Linked DNA regions of Homo sapiens: region 1 is linked to region 2. A link means that fine-mapping ties the variant in region 2 to the expression of a gene that starts in the linked region. Tissue or cell type: lymphoblastoid cells. Region 2 holds a variant in brackets; the other region holds the start of a gene. All regions are shown on one strand. Distances are between the middles of the regions.

Evidence for each region. PIP is the estimated chance that this variant, and not a neighbour inherited with it, causes the effect.
Region 1: SMAP2 starts here. The variant in region 2 is fine-mapped to the expression of SMAP2 in lymphoblastoid cells (TwinsUK, PIP 0.95).

What each region holds. Positions count from the first base shown.
Region 1 is chr1:40,368,603-40,376,877 of GRCh38, reverse strand. SMAP2 (small ArfGAP2) reads right to left here and starts at 3,151. Exons shown (of 10, transcript NM_022733.3): 1 at 2,655-3,151. The coding sequence starts at 2,757. RefSeq lists an enhancer at 2,394-2,893 and silencers at 2,879-3,018, 3,089-3,408.
Region 2 is chr1:40,394,287-40,402,561 of GRCh38, reverse strand. All of the region lies in intron 1 of SMAP2 (small ArfGAP2), which reads right to left. Among named protein-coding and RNA genes, the nearest start is that of SMAP2, 25 kb to the right of the region's middle. The variant A/G (reference allele first, on the strand shown) is at 3,357.

The DNA of each region.
Region 1 (8,275 bases), 26 kb after region 2:
CTCATAGGTCGATAGTCTATGCCACATCATCTAACTGGATATTAATAGATGAGCAATCACTCACCATATCCTGTACAGTTAACTTCCAATTTTTTAGGAAAGGACACAGGAATACAGGTAAATAAACTGAAACCCAATTCTCATTTTAGCCAACACTTTTTAAATTCCTCCTCCAATGAAATGTATTTTTTATCAGCGCTAACAGGTAACAATTTATTGATCCAAACGTCTTTTCCTTCAACAATCTGATAGTTGTCCAAATGATCATTATGACAACCAAAATTAGAAAACAGCAGGGGAAAAAGAGTGAGAGGGCTTGGAGGGGTGGAATGGGATAGGTAATTCATAAATTGGATAAACAGAGGCCTCAACAAATGCCTATTTGTCATAATCTAAAGATGACTGACCCATTGTCATCTCATTTTTAATACAATGACCAAGTCCCTGAAGCCACCTGGTAAAATGTAAAACGAACTTCTGAAAAGAAATTGAGGATCCAGGATTCTACCATCAACAGTAGTTAATAAAGTTTACAAGCCAGCAGTTACTAGTTCTCATTAAGAATTAACTGATATTTCATAACCTGATCCCCAGTAAGCTTATTAATAAAAAGCAACGGAAATTTCGGGCTGGGCATGGTGGCTCACACCTGTAATCCCAGCACTTTGGAAGGCTGAGGCGGGTGGATCACCTGAGGTCAGGAGTTCAAGACCAGCCTGGCCAACATGGTGAAACCCTGTCTCTACTAAAAATACAAAAATCAGCTGGGCATGGTGGCGGGCGCCTGTAATCCCAGGTACTCGGGAGGCTGAGGCAGGAGAATCACTTGAACCCGGGAGGCAGAGGTTGCAGTGAGCCGAGATTGCACCATTGCACTCCAGCCTGGGCGACAAAGCGAAACTGTCTCAAAAAATAAAAATAAAAAATAAAATAAATAAAAAGCAATGGAAATTTGGAGGAAGAAGTAGTGAATCAGCCTCTCTCTTCCATGTGCTGTATTTTATTGGAATATGAGTAAGTATAAGGGTAATATGAGAAATGGGGGGGGGGGTTCTAGTCACCAAAATGGCATCTGACTCTCCAAATGCAGCAATGCTCACTCCAGTGGGTTGCTTCACTGTGACTCAAGATCTGTCAAATGAGGACATAAGGGAATTTGAATAAAGCCAAGATACACTCCTAAAATAAACCAAATCTTCCAATAGACCTAACAGAAGATGTAACAAGAATCAAGAAGCTAACCTACTCAACATAAATTGATTCTAAAATACTTTTTAAAATGAATTATTGCTAATGCAAAAATTCAGGAAAGAAGTCTAGGAATTTGTTTTCCTAATGGCACATTCCATTTATCTGTTGGTAGAGGTCACTAAAATACATTACTAGGTGTCTATGTATCCCTCCCCTGTTCTCCTTTTATAACCTTATTCTTCAAAAATAAAAGGTAATTAAGTGAAAGCATCAATTAAATATGTCCTTCCTTTCTCAAAATAGATAAATACGAATATAACTGAATCTTTGTTTTATAGTATATGCCCACTACGCTGTACGGCAAACAACCATGGCAAATCCACTGCATTATGAACAAAAGTAAATTGTCGCCCCCAAAATATAACTATCCATTTCGACCCAACCAAAGGGAAAATAATTTTCCCAATCCTCCAATTATATGCCAAAAGAATTAGAAAATACAGGAAAAAAAGATTCATAGAAGCTTGTATAAATGTCAAGTGCCAACATTTCACTAATAACCAAGATTTCCTATTGTACTGACTTTTAATTGTATCAAATCATGAATCTTCTAGGGCACAGAAAACAAAGACTAAATGGTTCTGCCAATTTACAATGATCATATTTCACCTTTAGAAGTGTAATCGCCATGGAAGCAATGAATTCATCGAATTCATCTTTCTCTCTCCACTGATTAAACGGATCCTGCACTACAGGCATAATCGGCTAGTTTCTGCCACCACTCATACATAGGCCTCCAACGCACTCTACAAGCCAGGGCTACACTGCCTAGAAATCCGCACTGTGTCACTGCATAAGGCAGTTTCCCACTGCACACATCCAGAAGAATAAAGTCACCTAAGCACTCTTGTCAGATCTTAGCAAGGCTGCAAAATGACAGGAGTTGCTAACCAAATAGCAGGAAGCAAAAATCACCACCTTTAAAAATCATTTAAGCAGTTTTCCTTTCCGCCATCTCACTTCCCTCCTCCTCCTCCTCGTCATTCTCTCTCTCTCTCTCTCACACACACACACACACACACACACACACGCACGCACGCACGCACGCAATGCAGTTCATCCCCAGCTTTGCAAGTGACATGCTGGGAGCTCTCTCTGGACAGCCGGCCCAGAACTCATTCAGAGCCCTCAAATACAGACATTCTCACCTGAACACGCCAGGCAACTTCCACCCGCACCATCACCTCCACCCTCCCCGACACACACAGACTCGCCCTCGCAAGCTCTACCCATACCAATCCCCCAGCTGCAGAAAGCCCAGTAGGCTCACTGCAAGCGCAGCACGCGTTACCACTTATAAGCCGAGTTGGGCGGCCTAAGCTTCAGAAACCGCCTCTTCACGCAGCCCACCCCCACCACCCCGGCGCGGCTGGACCCCTGGCCCGCCAGGTGGGATGCGCTACCTTTAGACTGGCAATCTGCACAAAACTTGTTATCCTCCTCCAGCAGCAGGTTGGCCAGGACAGCCTGGTACCGATCCACGTCCTTCACCGACTTGCCTGTCATGGCCAGGGTGCCGGCGGGGGCAGAGGGCGACGCGCCCTCCTCGCCCCCAGAGACCCCTGCCTCAGTCCGGGGTTGAGGACTCCCGGTCCCCCGCCCAGGGGCACCTCCTGAGCGGGGAGAGCCCTCTCCTCCGGCCCCGCCGGACGCCCCTTCCCGGGTCGGGGGCGTCCGTCCCCCACTCCGCAGCCCCTCGGCGCGGCGCCCCTTGGCGGGCTTAGGGACAGGCCCGCCTCCAAGAGAGGCTGCGGGGCCAGAGACCCTCAGCCCAGGCAAAGGCGGACCACGAGCCTCCTGGGTGCCGGACGCAGATGACCCTCTGGCCGGCCTGTCTGCTGGCCTTGCGTCCCGCGCCTCGGTTTCCCTGGCAGCTGCCGTCAGCTCCGCTACCACCTCCACCGCCTACTTCCGGCAGCTCTTCCTCCCCACCTCCACCCTGCCCAGCTCGCGCATGCGCCCCGCCCCCACCGCGCCGCACTGGGCTCTTCCTTCAGCTCCGCCTCTCGGGAACCAATCCGTGGAGAAGCGGGGGGCGGGCCTTGGGTGGGGGCGGAGGGAAGGGGTGGGCACGCCCCCTGCGTGTCCTTGGAAGAGAATGAATGGAGCCTGGTAGAAAGGGAGTGGAGGGAATGGAAGAAAGTGAAGGAAGACAACAACTAACATTTACTGAGCTCTTACTATGCGCTAGGCACTGTGTTAAGCGCTTTGCATGAACTATCCCAACATAATCCTCACAACGACCCTATGATCATCCTTATGTAACCTGAGGGTTGTTGATACCCCAAAGTCCTCCAGCTTGTTTTTTCCAACAGCCAAATATAAGAGTCCAAGCCCCTAACCCAGGATATAGGAACGTCACCCCCTCCCCACATTTTCAGAGGACTCTGGTCACCTCTCACTTGGAATACCTGCTCCCACTAATACTCATTAGCTCTCCTCTGTGACTCCTGCCTTTTTGGATATTGTTTGGCCTGGTGCCCAGACAGTTTGTTTCTTCTTCCATTTCTTAAATTCTCACAAAACAGCGAGTTTTTTGTGGCAGACTTTTACTGAACGTTATTTGGGAAGGGTGGGGGACAGTGATTAAAGCATAGCACACAACAGGCAACTCCTTAAAAATGATTATTAAACATCATCATCCAAAGCCACCGTTGCTACAGATAATTTCTCATTGGCTGTCCTTTTCCTTAGGGATCCACCTGCCATCTGGCTTGTGTTTTCATTCACTCATTCATTCATTCATTCACTGAGCACGATGTTACTGAGAAATTTCTAAGTATCAGGCACTGTACTAGGGGAGAGGGAAACAGCATGATCCGATTTGTGGTTTTAAAAGGTCACTCTGGCTGCCATGGAAATAATTAATCAGGGAAGATAGTAAGCAGATGCTAAGAGTTATCTAAACTCTGGTGAAACCCTCTCCTCCATTTCTTTACTTTCTCCCAAGACCAGGATCCCCTCAAAGCTTTCATCTCATCAGAGGAAAACTAAACATTTCTATTACTTTATTAATCACAACAATTAAATTTTCTGGCTAAGCCTCTTCCCTTCTAGCCATGCCTAGGGGACTTGACTTTTAAAAACACACAAGTTCATTGGGGTGTTTTTCCTCAGAAAACCCATCCAAGTAGGTATTACCATAACCATTTTTCAGTTGAAATAGACAGTCAAGATTAACTAGTTACTGGGTGTGGTGGCACATACCTGTAGTCCTAGCTACTCAGGATGCCAGAGCCAGAGCATCACTTGAGCCCAGGAGTTGGAATCCAGCCTGGGCAACACAGTAAGAACCACCCCTCCAACCCCCAATGTACCCCGTTACCCTGTCTCAAACAACAACAACAACAACAAAACCCAGTTAATTGCGGTGAGTGGTGATTGTACCTTAGTTCAAGCCCTCCCCATCTTCATCTCCTCACTCTGCAAATAGCCTTCCTGCCTTAGTCTAAATCTGGTTAAATTAATCCTTCACCGTGCTCTCTAGAGGGAGCTTTTAAATGCCAATTCTGATGGACTCACACTTCCTGCTTAAAAAATCCTTTAGTGGCTCTCCATTGCCTATGGCAGTGTTTCTCAAATTGTTCCCACCTAGTGAGAGATCTCATGGCTTTGTGGTTAAGCACACAGACTCTGGGGCAAGAATGCTTAAGTTTAAATCTTCAGCTTTTACCACCTATTATCTGTGTGACTTTGAGCAGGTTACTTAGCCTCTTGGTGCCTCAGTTATTTCATCTATAGAATGGGAATGATGATAACATTAATAGTACCTATTTCACAAGATTATTATGAGGCTTAGCTGAGATAATGCCTGTAATATAATTAGAACAGCCCTTGGTAGATAGTGAATGATAGACAATTAGCGCTCTTCACTAAATATTTCTGGCGTTTTGCCTTCTGAGCACATGGTAGGATTTTATTTCCTGGCCTTCAAGTGATTGGGAAAGACCAATGAGTTTGAGCAGAAAGGATGGATTACTTTGTCTCTGAAGCATTTATTTGTTGCTTTGAGCCTCTTGTGCTTCTCTTTCCCTCTGGCATGGCAACTATTGATGCTGAAGATGTTGGTTGCTCTATTAGCCTGGATTTCTGTGTAGCTGATAAACAAGAGCTCTCTGCCAGCCCATAGAGGATAACTTAGCATAAGCAAGAAATAAGCATTGTGTTGCCATTGAGTTTTGTTTGTTTACCACTGTATAAGCTAGCCTATCCTAGCAGATACATCAAGTATTAGCTCTTTTTATTATCATTACTAATAGCAGAGTAAAGTGAGTGCATAGCCCAGGGTCTGAGGATATAAACAAAGCAAACTGCTCCTCCCAAGTACACATTTTTTTTTTTGAAGTCTTGAATTTTGCTTTGACTAGTCTTGCAAAAATGTTCACTCTGTTCCATCATGCACATGTTATCTTATCATAAAACTGTTTCCACATTAGTTATAAAATTTTTTTTTTTGAGACCGAGTCTCGCTCTGTCGCCAGGCTGGAGTGCAGTGGTGCGATCTCGGCTCACTGCAACCTCCGCCTCCCAGGTTCAAGCAATTCTCCTGCCTCAGCCTCCCAAGTAGCTAGGACTACAGGCACGTGCCACCACTCCTGGCTAATTTTTTGTATTTTAATAGAGGCAGGGTTTCACCCTGTTAGCCAGGATGGTCTCAATCTCCTGACCTCGTGACCCGCCCACCTCAGCCTCCCAAAGTACTAGGATTACTGGCATGAGCCACCGCGCCTGGCCAGTTATAGAATTTTCTTTTCTTTTTTTTTTTTTTTTATTATACTTTAAGTTTTAGGGTACATGTGCACATTGTGCAGGTTAGTTACATATGTATACATGTGCCATGCTGGTGCGCTGCACCCACTAACTCGTCATCTAGCATTAGGTATATCTCCCAATGCTATCCCTCCCCCCTCCCCCTACCCCACCACAGTCCCCAGAGTGTGATATTCCCCTTCCTGTGTCCATGTGATCTCATTGTTCAATTCCCACCTATGAGTGAGAATATGCGGTGTTTGGTTTTTTGTTCTTGTGATAGTTTACTAAGAATGATGATTTCCAATTTCATCCATGTCCCTACAAAGGACATGAACTCATCATTTTTTATGGCTGCATAGTATTCCATGGTGTATATGTGCCACATTTTCTTAATCCAGTCTATCATTGTTGGACATTTGGGTTGGTTCCAAGTCTTTGCTATTGTGAATAATGCCGCAATAAACATACGTGTGCATGTGTCTTTATAGCAGCATGATTTATAGTCATTTGGGTATATACCCAGTAATGGGATGGCTGGGTCAAATGGTATTTCTAGTTCTAGATCCCTGAGGAATCGCCACACTGACTTCCACAATGGTTGAACTAGTTTACAGTCCCACCAACAATGTAAAAGTGTTCCTATTTCTCCACATCCTCTCCAGCACCTGTTGTTTCCTGACTTTTTAATGATTGCCATTCTAACTGGTGTGAGATGGTATCTCATTGTGGTTTTGATTTGCATTTCTCTGATGGCCAGTGATGATGAGCATTTTTTCATGTGTTTTTTGGCTGCATAAATGTCTTCTTTTGAGAAGTGTCTGTTCATGTCCTTTGCCCACTTTTTGATGGGGTTGTTTGTTTTTTTCTTGTAAATTTGGTTGAGTTCATTGTAGATTCTGGATATTAGCCCTTTGTCAGATGAGTAGGTTGCGAAAATTTTCTCCCATTTTGTAGGTTGCCTGTTCACTCTGATGGTAGTTTCTTTTGCTGTGCAGAAGCTCTTTAGTTTAATTAGATCCCATTTGTCAATTTTGTCTTTTGTTGCCATTGCTTTTGGTGTTTTGGACATGAAGTCCTTGCCCATGCCTATGTTCTGAATGGTAATGCCTAGGTTTTCTTCTAGGGTTTTTATGGTTTTAGGTCTAACGTTTAAATCTTTAATCCATCTTGAATTGATTTTTGTATAAGGTGTAAGGAAGGGATCCAGTTTCAGCTTTCTACATATGGCTAGCCAGTTTTCCCAGCACCATTTATTAAATAGGGAATCCTTTCCCCATTTCTTGTTTTTCTCAGGTTTGTCAAAGATCAGACAGTTGTAGGTATGCGGCGTTATTTCTGAGGGCTCTGTTCTGTTCCATTGATCTATATCTCTGTTTTGGTACCAGTACCATGCTGTTTTGGTTATTGTAGCCTTGTAGTAAAGTTTGAAGTCAGGTAGTGTGATGCCTCCAGCTTTGTTCTTTTGGCTTAGGATTGACTTGGCGATGTGGGCTCTTTTTTGGTTCCATATGAACTTTAAAGTAGTTTTTTCCAATTCTGTGAAGAAAGTCATTGGTAGCTTGATGGGGATGGCATTGAATCTGTAAATTACCTTGGGCAGTATGGCCATTTTCACAATATTGATTCTTCCTACCCATGAGCATGGAATGTTCTTCCATTTGTTTGTATCCTCTTTTATTTCCTTGAGCAGTGGTTTGTAGTTCTCCTTGAAGAGGTCCTTCACATCCCTTGTAAGTTGGATTCCTAGGTATTTTATTCTCTTTGAAGCAATTGTGAATGGGAGTTCACTCATGATTTGGCTCTCTGTTTGTCTGTTGTTGGTGTATAAGAATGCTTGTGATTTTTGTACATTGATTTTGTATCCTGAGACTTTGCTGAAGTTGCTTATCAGCTTAAGGAGATTTTGGGCTGAGACAATGGGGTTTTCTAGATATACAATCATGTCATCTGCAAACAGGGACAATTTGACTTCCTCTTTTCCTAATTGAATACCCTTTATTTCCTTCTCCTGCCTAATTGCCCTGGCCAGAACTTCCAACACTATGTTGAATAGGAGTGGTGAGAGAGGGCATCCCTGTCTTGTGCCAGTTTTCAAAGGGAATGCTTCCAGTTTTTGCCCATTCAGTATGATATTGGCTATGGGTTTGTCATAGATAGCTCTTATTATTTTGAAATACGTCCCATCAATACCTAATTTATTGAGAGTTTTTAGCATGAAGGGTTGTTGAATTTTGTCAAAGGCTTTTTCTGCATCTATTGAGATAATCATGTG
Region 2 (8,275 bases):
AGGAGAATTGCTTGAATCCAGGAGTCAGAGGTTGCAATGAGCCGAGATCACACCACTGCACTCCAGCCTAGATGACAGCGAGACCTTGTCTCAAAAAAAAAACAAAAATACAAAAATACAGTTAGAAGAAATAAGATCTAGTGTTCAATAAATCAGTACAGTGACTATAGTAAATAATAATCTACCATATATCTCAAAATAGGTAGAAGAGAATAATTCAAATATTCCCAGCATAAAGAAAAGATAAATGTCTAAGGTGACGGATATAGCATTATCATGATTTGGTTATTACACATTATGTGAATGTATCAAAATATCACTTGTACCCTGAAAACATGTACATCTATTATGTATCAATAAAAAGAGATAAACCAATTGTTTAATACACATTGGTCATGGCAATCAAGGAAAAAAATATAAAAGATGCCATTTTGAAATTTAAAATGAAAAGAAATGCTGAGAGGCAATATGCCAAACAATTTTGAAAGCAAAGAGGATAGACAAGTGATGTAAACTGGTAGTGATCGGCACAACACAAGAACAAGGTCACACATAAGTGCACATATTCAACAGGAGCCTAAGAGCAGGCGTGGGCAGCATCAAGCAATACTAAAACTAACATAGAATCACTCTGCAATAAGGGATCAGGGAAAATGAAAAAAGTAGATGGAGATGGATTTGGTTGATCAGTCAAGAAATCAACTGTCCTAAGTACCAGTTCAGTATCGGAAAAATCTGGGTTTACACGGACCTGTTGCATGTATTTTGACAAGTTTCTCTAGGGCTTATGTCTCCATTTGTAAAATGAAAAGCATATACGTAATATCCAACTTATATTCAACATCTGGACAGCTTCTACATACGGAGTAACTACTGCTGCAAATTCCTCTTGCTGCTGAAACTTCCCCCACCACCAAAGCTGCCAGGATTAGAGGGGCTCTGGGATTGACAACTCAGCAGACAGAAAAGGGGAACTAGCGTGATGGAGGACTTCAAGCTACTACTAATATTATAATAATTATATCATTGAGTTCTAATCTATGGAGTTCCAAACAAATAAATATTGAGGAGGAAAAAACATTGATAAATTGATGGCTACCTATATTTAGACCTGCTGGCATAACGGACCTGTCAAAAAGTTCAACGGGCAGGCTACGCGAAGGGAGAGAACTTTCCCATCTTCCATCCAAATCCTGTGGAATCTATCTTGGAAACTTTTCCAGAATCTATCCATTTCTACCTAGACCTCATGTCTCACCTATAAGCATTCGTTCTTTTTTGTGTGTGTTTGTTTGTTTTGAGACGGAATCTCGCTCTGTCACCCAGGCTGGAGTGCAGTGGCGCGATCTCGGCTCACTGCAAGTTCCGCCTCCCGAGTTCACGCCATTCTCCTGCCTCAGCCTCCCGAGTAGCTGAGACTACAGGCGCCCGCGATCACGCCCGGCTAATTTTGTTTTTGTATTTTTAGTAGAGACGGGGTTTCACCTTGGTAGCCAGGATGGTCTCGATCTCCTGACCTAGTGATCCGCCCTTCTCGGCCTCCCAGAGTGCTGGGATTACAGGTGTGAGCCACCGCGCCCAACCAGCATTGGTTCTCTTAACATTATTTATTGTGTACCTATGTGCCAAGCAATTTGCCTGCTAAGTACTGGGGATACAAAGGCAGAGAAAATAAGGATGAGATTCCTCAATTCAAAAAGCTCACAGACTAACAAGCAATTAGTCTCCAGAATCCCACCACCAGAATAATCTTTCTAAAACACAAATCTGTACAGATCACACCTCTAAATATAAACCTTCCATGTAGTCTCATACACAAAGGTAAATATGTAAATTGGTGCACATTTTCTGAATAGCATATTCCAAACTAAGCTCTCAATCTCTTGCTACAAAATCTCTTCCTTTTTTCTTCATCTTAGTCAACTACACCTCCATCCATTCCATTGCGTCAGTCAGAAAATTATGCATCATGAAACCTCTCTCCTTCAGCCCCCACATCACCAAGACAAAAATATCTGTCAAATCAGTATCTCTTCTCTCCATCTGTATCACTATTTCTGTAATCTAAAGCCACCAGACTCTTTCGGACCACTGCAATAACCTCCTAATAGCTCTCTCTCCACTTTTACATTCTCTTCTCCCTTGAGCCCAAACCAAAACCATTCTCCACCAAACAGCCAACTTGAGCTCTTAAAGAAGCAAAGCCACATTGTGCTGCTTAAAATTCTTCTATTACTATTGGATTAAATAACAAAATCCTTAACATAGTTTCCAAGGTCTTAAAGGTCTAGCCCATGCCTCCTTCCGCAGCCTCTCAATTCCTATGGTAGCAGCCTTCTTTCATTTCCTCAAGGGACCAACATGTTCCTTCCTCAGGGCTTGCTGGACTTTGTACATGCTGCTCCTGCTGCCTAAAAAAACTCTTTCCCTAACTGCCAAATGCCACTTGCAGCCTGGCCAACTCCTATACATCACAAGGGTCTCAGCTGAAATGTTTCTTCCTCAAAGGAGTCTTTCCTTGGCTCCCCAGTCTAAACCCGACTGTAACATCTCTTCTACCCTTTCTTTTGGTTTTTACCTTACAGAAAATTTCAAACAAACGAAAGCAGAGCATAATTAACCATGAGCTTCAGCAATTATCAACTCCTAGCCAATTTTGTTTCAGCTATACTCCCACCCACTGCCCCTCAACTCCAACCTGGATTATTCTGAAGCAAATCCTAAATATCATACCATTTCATCTGTATATACTTCAGCATATATCTCTAAAAGATAAGGACTTTTTTTTTAAAGGTTATGAACTTTCATTTACCCTTTACTCTTTTTTTCACTCTTTCTTTTCTTTTCTTTTTTTTTTTTTGAGACAGGGTCTTACTCTCTCACCCAGGCTGGAGTGCAGTGGTGCGATCATAGCTCACAGCAGCCTTGGGCTGTCAGGCTCAGGCAATCCTCCCACCTCAGTCTCCCAAGTAGCTGGGACTAGATGCATGAGCCACCACGCTCAGCTGAATTTTTTATTTTTGTAAAGATGGGTCATTGAGTGGTGTTAAGAGTCAGGAAAAAAAAAAAAGAGAAAGAAAGAAAAGAAAAAAAAAAGAAATGGGCCAGGCACGGTGGCTCACGCCTGTAATCCCAACACTTTGGGAGGCAGAGGTGGACAGATGACCTGAGGTCAGGAGTTTGAGACAAGCCTGGCCAACATGGTGAAACCCCATCTCTACTAAAAATACAAAAAAAAAAAAAAAAAAAAATAGCCACACGTAGTGGCACATGCCTGTAGTCCCAGCTACTTGGGAGGCTAAGGCAGGAGAATCACGTGAGCCCAGGAGGCGGAGGTTGCAGTGGGCCGAGATCCC[A/G]CCACTGCACTCCAGCCTGGGCAACAGAGCAAGGCTCTGTCTGAAAAAAATAAAAATAAAAATAAATCAATGAAATAAAAAAGAGACAGGGTCTCACTATGTTGCTCAGGCTGGTCTTGAACTCCTGGCCTCAAGTGATTTTCCTACTTTGGCCTCCCAAAGCACTGAGATTACAGGAGTGAGCCACTGTGCCTGGCCACCCTTTACTTTTTCTAAATCATACCATATTTTGTTACTATCTAATTATTTGATTGTTTAAGATGTCTTTCCCGCTTAACTATGTGTGCCACAAGAGCTGTCACCAGACCTGTAACATTCACTATCATATACTCACGGCATAGCATGGTTCCTTGAACATAGCAGGGAAGCAACATTTGCTTAAAGATTAATTAAAACTAAGTATTCTAGGTGCAGTGGCACATGTCTGTAGTCCCAGCTATTCAGGAGGCTGAGGTTGGAGGATCACTTGAGCCCAGGAGTTTGAGGCCAGCCTGGGCAACATATTGACACCCTATCTCAAAAAAACAAAAGAACTAAGTAAATCCTTTGACCCCACTTGTAAGAATTCATCAGGGAAAAAACAGGTCAAGTACACAAAGAAATACGTTAAGAATGTTCATTATTACATCTTTATGAAAATTAGAAACATTAATAGGTTACATTAAGGAATTATGGTATCACCATTTAACGGGGAAAAATTTTGGAGCCTCTATTTCATATAAAAGTATCTCCATGATATAGTAATTTTAAAAATCCAGTATTAAAAGAGTACACATGAAACAATTCCATTTTTTTTAAAATATGAATAAATGAGCTCGGTGTGGTGATATGCCTCTGTAGTCCTAGCTACTTGGGAGGCTGAGCGGGAGTACTGCTTGAGCCCAAGGATTCAAAGGCTGCAATGAGCTATGATTGCACCATGGCACTTCATCCTAGGGAACAGAGTGAGACCTTGTCAAAAAATAAATAAATAAATAAATGTACGCGTATGCACAGAAAAAAAATCTAGAAGACTATATGTAAATTATTACTATATCGGGATAATGGGATAATGAAACATCTATTTTCTTCTCTATATATCCTCTCTGAATTGTTTGCAATGAGCTTTCTATTAATTTTGCAATGGGAAAAACCAGTACAGATATCGTAAAAACAAAACAACGTAAGCATCCAGGGCTCCTTACTGGCTGCAGGGTAAGTTGAAACTCCTTAACATAATATATAAAGTCTGTTGAGAGCCTTGTACTTTACACATGCTGAGGAAGTCATAATTGTGAAATATGCAGCACACTCAAATCTCTTTGACTACACCATTCTTTCTACCTGGAATGGCTTTCTCCCTCATTCCCTGCTTGACAAACTTAAAAATCCAGTTCATCTGTGATGCCCTCCAATGGAATAAACCCTAACTTTCTCTATTGCTAATAGCCCAGGGTATGCTTTGTTCTTCTAATACTTAATATCTTGTTCGAGTTGCTTACAGGTCTCTCTTGTCCTAAATAGACTATGAGCTCTGGAAGGCAATGACCATGTTCCTTCATCATTTATCACAAACACTTGACACAATGCTAGCAAACAGAAGATGGTACACAATAAATGTGTGTTAAATGAATTCGTCAATAAGCAACATAAATGTATATATTTTTCCTGTTTTGCAAAATGAAGGGAGAAGTTTTCAAATGCCTTAAAGGATAGCTGTAACACAGAAAACGGATTAGGTTACTTTGGAAAGGCTTCAAAAGCAGAACTGGCACCAAGGAGTAGAAGTTGATTTTAGCACACTCTAGAGAAAAATTTTCTAACAATTAAGGTTGTGTAAAAACCAATGCAGCATATCCAGAAATTGTAAAATCTCAGTTAGTGCAGTGTTCAAACAGAGGTTTGGTAATCAGTTCTCAGGGATGGTAGAGAAATGATCCCCATGTGGTGAATTGGGTGAACAATGAGCCCTACAGTTCTTTCTACTACTACAGTCCTACTACTACAGTAGATGATTTGCAGTAATTTTTAGGTCCCTTCCTGCTTACCGTTCAATGGTTCTGAAAACGTAAAATGAAACAAACAATCTATGAAGATGTTAGGTCTTGAGGAACCTAAAACACGGAATCAAATTTGGTTCATGGAGCCTATACCAGGCACTGAAAACTGGTTAAATGCAACATACATATAAGGAAAAACCTAAATCAACAAACTCAGATTTTATAAGAGATTAATTCTACGTGACATAACTTGTCATTAACTCTGACCCAAAATTTGGAAGTCAAAGTAAAAAAAGCAGCAGTATTTGTTTTAAGAACAAATCTAGTGCCAGTTACCTCAGTTCCACTCATTATATCCCTCCATTCTCTGATTCACTGAAAAGGAAGAATACACAGAAACACCAGTGGGATCTTGGAAAAATTGTGTAGGGCTGCTGAGAGGTATGTTTACCTCTATGTTTTCATCCACACAAAAGAGAGTTCATCAAGTTCCTTATTCCAAAATAACAATAAACAGTAACTTTGAACTTCTGTAAGTACAAACATTTTAAGGAACCATGAGACCAAAATAAAGGCTTATGCAATCAACCTCTGCTTTCAGAACACTTGCAAGACAAGTCCCTTTCCATCTGGGCCATCTTGCAAGAATGTTGTTTCCGTTTGTCAAAAAGAAACACTGTCCACATTTGTACTGTTGAAAAAAGAGCATAAGTTAAGCTTAAAAATGTCTGAGACAAAGAAAATTAAAACATGTCTGAGACTGGTTAGAGAATAAAGGTAAATCCTACACCAAGAAATTTAAAATTAGAAAATCAGAGGTGGAAAGGACTTTAGAAATCCTCTTAGGTCCAGCCTCTCACTGAATGCACCCTCCTTCTAGGGGTGATCACCTGGCTTGTCCAATGCTGAGTCAGTTACGTACCATTTCAAAAGGTAGTTGGTTTGTCTATTAGACGGCACCCACTATTAGAGAGGCCTTCCTTATACGGAGTCCCATTAATCTCTCTTCCTACCATTTTGATATCCTGGTGCTGCTTTTTACTCCCCCCATACTTATATAATATATCAAAGTATGAAAGATAAAGATGGAGGTTTGGAGATTCTAGCAGAAGAAAGCAGCCACTTATATACTCAACCAAAATACAAGCCCGCTGAACCAATTTAATCCAGGAGCTCAATGATAGAACAGACATAGCAATTAGACAGACTGCTGTGATTACCAATGGAGATGAAGCAAAGCAACATTATCTTCCTACCAGGTAACCGGAAAAAGGAGGTTAAGGGAGGTAGAACACTGCTAAGTACTCACTAATGAAATGATTAGTCAATCTATGTCTAAAACTAATTCAGCAGTTAACTTAAAATGGCTTTTCTCAAAAAACATTAAAGCCTGTAACACAAAGAAATCAACAGGAAAGCAGACTGAGGTCTACTAGGAGAAAGGAAGGAGGCATTCTTCATCTTTCTCATGTTATTTAACTGGCCCTTCTTATCTACACAGCTAAAGATACGAATTATCTAAATTACAGCACTAATTTCCTGTGTGACTTTAGACAAGTCAATATACCTTAACCAGATTATCTCAAACATATCTCTTCTAAAAGATAGTAACTGTATCTCAAAAATTCATTAAACTACTCTGGAAAGGTAAATTTGGCTCCACATTAATCTTACTGCCCTGTTTTATTATTATTATTATTATTATTTTGTAGAGGTGAGGTCTTGCTATGTTGCCCAGGCTGGTTTTGAACTCTTGGGCTCAAGTGATCTTCCCACCTTGGCCTCCCAAAGTACTGGGATTACAGGCATGAGCCACTGGGCCTGGCCATTGGTTTATTATTAACAGGTAGGGACTTACTGTGACTCTTCCTTGTTGTCTCTCCCAGCAGTGGAAGGTAACTAGTGTATACTTAGGTGATGTTTCTGGGAATAAAGAACTATCAATCAGTCATCCTGTATCATTATTATCAATTCAATTCCCCAGGTGACTTCAGGAGGGAAAGAATGAGATCCTAGTTTGGACTTTGTTGGCTTTGAAAAGGACATTCTGCCAACATATGTCCTGATAATGTCATCACCCCATTCAAAGCTATGTCACTGGACCCCCCACCATCAACTGAACTCCAAACTTCTAAGTATGGCTTAAATTCTCCTGTGATCTGGGTCTTTAATTCTCATTACTCCTCTTCTCACTTCTATACACCAAGAGTGACATCACTTCCTCTTAAAACTGTGTATATAGATGCCACTTGTCATGTTCCTGACTCACAGAGGAATCTGAGAGAGTGAATACTACCCACAGAGACGCACAGGCCTTTTTCTGATTTGGGGATGGGATACAGACAGAGGGACTCTTGGGTGTGGTGAGTCTCTGTTCCAACTAGAGGACCTCCTGACTGCCACAAAAATCAATGTACACATATATCAAAACACCACATTGTATACTGTAAACATATACAATTTTCATTGTCAATTACATCGTCGTAAAAAAGAATTCTTTCCAGTTGGTCCTGGGAAAGCTATGCAGTGCTCTTGGTGGTAGTGTCTGAGAGCTGAGACAAGGCCCAAGTCTTTGGGGGTTTCCCTAGGAGATTCTGGTATGTGCTGCTATGATTGTTTTTATAGTAAAGAGCCAACATATTTTAAGGAGGGAGAAAGAGCTAGCCAAGAGATTTTCTGCCAGTATTGAAGAACCTTGTAAAGTCAGTGAGATGAGACTGATTGCATAAGCCAATGAAGCCCCCAGTTGCTTCCGTTAGAGGCCAGTCCCTTGATGCTACAAACACTGAATAAGATAAAACTTAAAAATCTGAACAGGTCCACCTCTTCCTTTGAGGACAATAGACTTCTTCAAAAAAGAGCAAAAGTGGATCCCCGTAAGTTTTCATTTCATGGAGTGAACTGATGATGGCTAACCTTCAAGACATGGTTACTTGAAGA